Linked DNA regions of Homo sapiens. The protein of the gene in region 1 interacts with the protein of each later gene in a pairwise test. Each region holds a gene or a part of one and is shown on either strand. Other genes may lie near its edges.

What was found.
Region 2: the proteins of AHI1 (region 1) and SPATA7 interact in a protein complementation assay, tested with the Homo sapiens proteins (one study listed by IntAct).

The regions. Positions count from the first base shown.
Region 1 is NC_000006.12:135,487,618-135,491,277, reverse strand, and holds part of AHI1 (jouberin), read left to right. Parts: intron 1-530; coding exon 531-655; intron 656-3,660. UniProt on the Homo sapiens protein: Involved in vesicle trafficking and required for ciliogenesis, formation of primary non-motile cilium, and recruitment of RAB8A to the basal body of primary cilium.
Region 2 is NC_000014.9:88,430,627-88,434,286, forward strand, and holds part of SPATA7 (spermatogenesis-associated protein 7), read left to right. Parts: intron 1-545; coding exon 546-599; intron 600-2,508; coding exon 2,509-2,586; intron 2,587-3,660. UniProt on the Homo sapiens protein: Involved in the maintenance of both rod and cone photoreceptor cells.

The DNA of each region.
Region 1 (3,660 bases):
TAGGGCATATAAAAGACTTATTTTATCCTAAATGTATTGGGAAATTTTCAGGGGCTTAAGCATTATCTTCTTCATGTTTTAAAGGAAAAACCTGTTAATATTTGTGGAATACTGATTACAGGCTAGGCACACCTTAGCCATTTTTCATGCAAAATGATCTTTGGCATAAGATAATTGTGATTTTACAGATAAGGAAAATGAAGTTTAGAGATCTTGAGTAACTTGTCTAAAGCCACATAACACGTAACTAACAGTGGTAGATGCTACTGTTTATCAGAAATAAAAAGTTAACTTAGCAAAGGAGACTTTTAGAGTGAGTGGCCAAAAAGGTCAGAGGGATACAGGTGAATGTTGTGTCACTAAAGTCAAAATAAAAAATATTTTAAGAAGGAAAGATAGGTGAGTTTTTCTAATGTAGCTAGAGAACTCATGCCGATATTTACAAGAACTTATTTCTTAACATCCTAGTAGTGTAGGTTGTGTGTTATGATAGAGTCATTTACAAAATCACATGGCTGTATCTTTTGTAGCTGAGAGTGAAGCAAAAGTAAAAACCAAAGTTCGCTTTGAAGAATTGCTTAAGACCCACAGTGATCTAATGCGTGAAAAGAAAAAACTGAAGAAAAAACTTGTCAGGTCTGAAGAAAACATCTCAGTAAGTAAATGATCATTGGGTAATAGTGATTTACATATGCGCATAAAATGCAGATATGGCTGCATTTTATGTTAAAATTCTAAGGAATTTTGAAAATTAAAAACAGTAACACTATGTCATGGTCAATAACATGTGGTAAAAATAAAGTTTATATTAGAATCAACATCACTGTGAGAATATTGACTTCATTCTTGAGTGCTGTCCTACAGGAAGAACACACACACAGTGGGGAAAATGACCAGAGATAGTGGGGAAACTCAAAACTAGCCATGATAACATTTTTGAAGAAAATATTTTTAACCCAGAATTGTGAAGAACTTAGGAAGTAGTATCTTAACTTCAGATATTGAATAGCTTGTGCTTATTTAAACTATTTCTGTGTGATTCTACCCAACAGAACCAGGAGAAATCAATGGCCGTATGGTAATAATTATCCTTTTATGTTTGAGGCACACTTTCAAATGATAGAATCTTTGGCAGCACACTTGAAGGAATTAAAAATACAGTGCTCAAAGACTAAGCAAATCAGCAACTAACTACAACCTGATCCCCTTGGAATCATAAAGAGTCTGTATTGGCATCCACAGTTAATGCTCTATGCCCTCTTTATACCTATCTCCCTACTTGAGTTGCACTTTTTACTACTTTGACCATTATCTCTTCTGTCCTCACAGAAAAAAATAAACAGGCTCTTGTGTAAATGGTACATAGTTTTTTTTTTTTTTTTGGCAGGAGTTTTATAATGAGTTATAATCCTACATTTTGCTTGTAGTAAGATTTACCCCATTTTTTCTTAAGACCTGTTCATTTTAGTATTCTGTCTGGCAGATGTCAATGTAACAATATAAATTCTGAAGTGAGGCAAAAACAAGTAGTAAAATTGACCAAAATCCAGCTGCACATATGTGAGGGTTCATAGTGTATACACTGGTGTACGACTGCACAAAAATTTCGAACTACTGACAGAATGGACAGATTAGCACTCCCATAGTGATTGCTGCTCTGAAATAGCATGTGCTTTTTCTGGTGGTACTAGTGCACAATATGGTAGGGAATAGTGACATGGAGGATGAAACATTGCTTATTGATATATGCGCTCCCCTCAGATGGAGTGGTTTATGTTGGGCAAAAGCAAAAAGAACCCTGGAAACAGTTGTCTGCAGAGATGTTTTATGCTCAGAGAAGAACCTCATATTGTCTCTTAGTATTAAAGAACTGGGAGTTGTGAGCCATGAACAAAATGCAATTTAGACCAAGGTTTAAATTAAATGGATAATCAGAATAGGCAGAGGCTATGTCCATTTACCTAAGGTCCAGTTTAAATGTTGAGGGGCACATAAGTGTGAGGTGACTAAGCATAATTTATCCAGCCTCTCTTTGCAAACACCAGGACTGAATAGGCTTCTTTTCTTTCAGAAATAAGTACACTAGGAACAAATATTTGGGAAGATATTTCGCAGCTCAAAAGAACAGGAATATTTCTAAAGGACTTAGAGGAGAACAAAATATTTTTGACATGATTAACTTGAGGAAGTAAAAGAGGAATAGCTGCTTTCATTTGCTAGATGCCTTAATGCTTTCTATCTTTAGGCACTCTTCTAAACACTTTATATATATTTAGTCGTTTAATACAAACGACGAAATTACAGGGTTTTATTTCTGTACAGGAGAAAACTACATCAGAAGTTAAGTAACTTGCTGAAAGTTACATAGTAAATGGTAGAACCAGGATTCAAACACTGAGTGGAAGTGCAGAATCCACTGCCTTAACCACAACCCAATATTATCTATTTTAATGAAATTTGAAAAGATAGGACTTCTTCTTGAAAGAAGAACAGGGAGTCCTATGTACAGAACAGGCTGAGATGAGAAATGGAGCAGTCTGAAATAAAATTAAGCGAGGAAAAAAGTCAAAATAGGGATTCATAATAATGGCAGGTTCATCTTATATTCCAGTTATATATAAGGCACAATAATAAGAGTTTTACAAATATTATTTCTAAATCTCATGTTAATCATGCAAGATAGATATTGGGATTCTTTTTTTGCACATGAGAAATTTTATAAACAGACAAACAGACATGTTAGGTGATTTCCTTAGGTCATTTAGTCTAAAATAGGATAAGTGGGATTTAAGACCACAGTCTCTGCAATTTTAAAGTTCATGTTCTTCAGTTGCTTCCTTAAAACTATATCTCAGGCCTAAAATGATGGAATTGACACTACGGAAAAATCTAATCAGTGAAGTGGGAGACAAATTCGAGGTGGGAAGAAATGACCAAAACTAAAATGAAAGAAATAAATGATGAGGACATAGAAAGATATTTGACCCACAAATAAGTATCCCGGGACAGTACTAGTGGAGCAGAAACAATAATGAGCATGATGAAGAAACCTTGCTGAGATTTCTGAAGAGATGAGTCATCCTGCATTCCAGGCAAAATTTATGAGATGAGAACTATATCTAGAAAATTCTTTTGTTTGTATCTTAAGAGTCAAATATTGCAGACACCTAAACACAAAAACATATAGTACATTTGAGACTTCTCTGTAAAAACACTAAATCCAAAAGACAATGGAGAAATATTTAGAGCACTAAGAGAAAAATTGTAGCCTGAGGAATCTGGTCACCTAAGTTGTCAGTCATTTGTGATGGTAGTTGTAAACATATGTGCATTATTAGAGAAATATCAGTGTTCCCTCCCTGGAAAAAAAAAAAGATTTAAGATTTATTAAAGATGTAGTACCATTTCTAGATATGAATCAAAGTTAAGAATTTAAGAATAGAACATCTTAAGATCTTAGAGGAAGGGATGAAGAGAAGTTGGTTAAGGAGTACAAAAATATAGTTAGAAGGAATAAGTTCTAGTAGTCAGTATTACAGTAGGGAAATTACAGTTAATAATTTATTGTATATTTCAAAATAGCCAGAAGAGAAGATTTATGTTCCCAACATAAAAGATAAATGCTTGGAGTAATGGGTATCTCAGATGCTCTGATTTGAT
Region 2 (3,660 bases), on another chromosome or scaffold:
GTTTATACTAGAGAAGTGCCGTAGTGTAGTTTTAAAAAGAATTGTGAATTTATACCTAGAAAAGTAGTTTAAAAACCTGTCTTTGCTGCTTACTAACATTAACCTTGGAAAGTTACTTAGCCTTTCTGACCCTTGGTGAACTAATCAGTAAATGGGAAAAATAATACACAGCCCACATGCCTGACTGGGTTGTTTAGAAGATTAAATTAGATATGGGTATGAGAGTGCTTTAAAAATTGCTGAAACATGTAATTACAGGTTGAGCATCCCAAATTTGAAAATCTGTAATTCACCATACTCCAAAATCCGACATGATGCCCAAAGGAAATGCTCATTGGAACATTTTTGGATTTCAGATTTTTGGATTGAGATGCTCAACTACTAAGTATATAATGGAAATATTCCAAAATCCAAATTCTGAAACACTTCTGGTTCCAAACATCTAAGATAAGGGCTATTCAGTGTGTACTAATATACAATGTTATTGAGTACTTATTGTATGCCAACCACTGTTTTGCTCAACTACTTTAACTTCCTCTTTCTAGGGCAATGTGTCAGTATTCCCTGAAGCCCCCTTCAACTCGTAAAATCTACTCTGAGTAAGATCTTTTTTAAGTCTTCGTTTTGCATAGTGGAATCAAGGATTAAGAATCAAAGAAACCATATTAAATAAGTCAGGATTGAACAATAATCTCTTTTTTTAAAACTGGCAAGTAATAAATGTACATATTCATGGAGTACCTAGTGATATTTTGATACATATACTGTACAGTGATTAGAACAGTTTAATTAGCATATCCATCATCTCGAACATTTTATCATTTCTTTGTGTTGGAAACATTGAGTATCCTTCTTCTAGCTATTTGAAACTATGTATTATTGTTAACCATGGTAGTCATCCTATAGTGGTATAGAACACTAGAACTTACTCCTCCTATCTAGCTATAATTTTGTATCTTGTAACAAATCTCAGCTTGTCCCTCATTCCCGTCTACCCTTCCCAGCCTCCAGTACCTTCTGTTCTACTTTCTACTTCTATGAAATCAACTGTTTTTAGCTTCCACATATGAGTGAGAACATGCGATGTTTAACTTTCTGTTGCTGGCTTATTTCACCAGCATCCATCCATGTTCCATCCATGTTGCCACAAATGACATGATTTTATTTGTTTTTATGGCTGAATAGTATTTCATGGTGTATATATACATTTTCTTTATCCATTCATCTGTGAACACTAATCTCTCTTACAACCAGCTTTGGGATATCAATCGTATAATACATACTAAATTTGAGAAACTGACCTGAATAATTTTCTCGAATTTTTTTGAGAAATAATAACAACTTTCTGGAATAATTATCAATCACGTCATTTTTATCTCCAGTAGAAATTTGTCCCCAGGTATTACCTGATACTTTTTAATAATCAGTATCCATGATTCTTACTTATTTTTTAAGTAAAAATAATAAAATAATAAAGAAGAGTTTTAGAGAAATGCAGACTTTTAATAGTTCAGGATACTCTTTCCAGAGGTTTCTAACCTCAGCAGTTCTTTGCAGATATTTTATTTGTAGATTTTAATGTTGTTTTAATTAAGTTACTCTTTTTAGGGAAAATAATTTATAAAATTTTATTTATTTTCAAATATGCTGTTTTTAAATAAGCAAGACCCTGTGAATCAGTTTGAAAGTGTAACTTTTTATTAAACATTTAAATCTATTATTTGATTTGCTTATTAACTCTTCCCTTATATTTGCTTATTCAGTAATTTAGTTACTTGCTACTTACATTTGGTATTAATTCACTAATTTCAGCTAATTAAAATCAAACGTACAATAATATCCTAATTTTCTTGTAATAGCTACTAAAATATAGTTATAATAGAGAAGTGTGTTCAAGTAGTTAAAAATTACCACAAGATTTATGTTCACAAATTTTCCTATGAGAATTTTTCGTCTCCAAACGTTTTGAGAGAAAAAATAAATTTTTCTGCTTAGTAAATTTCTCAACCTTAAAACAAGATGCTGGCCTAGGGCTAGGAGAGGACTTCTTAGTTGAAGCTCCTGCTTCTCTGGACAACTTTCCTCTTCCTTCTTGCAAATGCTTTGCAGAGGGACTTGCACCTCTGCTGCTGGACCTGGTCAGGAGCAAGAGGAAATTTAAAACATTCCTCGGGAGTGCTTGCTCCCAGTGGATTGCATTTGATTGCGCCTTGTCCTTCGTTGCTTTCTTTTTGTGTTGTTTAATTCTGCTTGTTTTTTACTGCTATGGATGTTGCAGATATCTGTGAAATTTTACTCTATTAGGTCATCACCTTTAGTAAATATTTATCCTTGCATAATTTGAGAAGGTAGACATGTTTGTTTTGTAATATTCCCCTTAGTAATATGAGATAGAAGTACATTGGTAATGGTAGAGATAGATATTTCTAATTAGGTACTAATGTTTCTTACAGTTTTCAGAATAAGTAAGGAATAATTTTTATGCTATATATTGCCTTCCTTTTACAGTGAAGAAGAACTGTTGTATCTGAGTTTCATTGAAGATGTAACAGATGAAATTTTGAAACTTGGTTTATTTTCAAACAGGTTAGTTTTTTTAATGGTGTTATGTTAATTCAGGAGTACATTAAATATTCTTCATATTTCTTCATATGATGTTAAAATTTTAAAGTTATTTTCCCATATTAGGAAATGAAAAAATATATTGCTTTCTTGGAAACTTATTATTATAATTGATAGCAAGTTGTAAAGAATGTTTAATTCATACTCTAGGGGAAGTTCACCACTTGGGAGAATTAAAGAATAGAGCTTTTATTCATTTTAATATTATATCCCTTGAGTTATAAGTGACTAGTGAAGGAAGATCTTTATCACTTATTTGCAAAGCTCCATAATCCCATTTTACTACCTAAAATTGTCATGAGAATCAAAAGCAAGCATTTTTGGTGCAACCATTATTAGTATTAGATCTAGTAAAATGAGAACAAATTAAGAGCTAGGTTTGCACGCTGTAAGTTAAATGGAAAGTTTGCAAAACCAGATTAGCTATTGCATAGCTTAAGGAAACTGTGTGTCCTGAATTTTGCTTGAACATTTATGTATCTAAGATTCATTGAGCACTGAGCTCTACTTTGTGTTATGTAACCTAGGACCCTATTATGTATACTACTTGCTTTCTCTGTCATAATAATATGCCAAGCATAGACATTTTTAATAAATTATTTCTATCCTCTACATCAAGTTTTTTAAAAAATTAAAGCAAACATTTTCATTATTGGTATAAAAAGGCATATCAAAAAGACCTAAGATTTTTGGCATTAATTCTGTTGACCCCTTTCATTTTAAAAAGTTGGTTAATAATATTTGCATAATATGGGTAAAGAGTTTCAGGATACATAATGAAAAGTTTTGGCAATCTGTATCACAATATGAATATACCTAACACTGCTGAATCGTGCACTTAAAAATGGTTAAGATGATAAGTTTGGTTAGTTTTTGCCACCACAAGAAAAAAAGTACACATACAAAATCATATGTATTTATGCTTAAAATTTTATGTTTTTCTCAAGATTATAAGACTGTTTATTACAGCATTTTTATAATTGTACCAAAAACCAGAATCAACCTAAATGTTTAATGGTAAATGTTTGGTTGAATAAA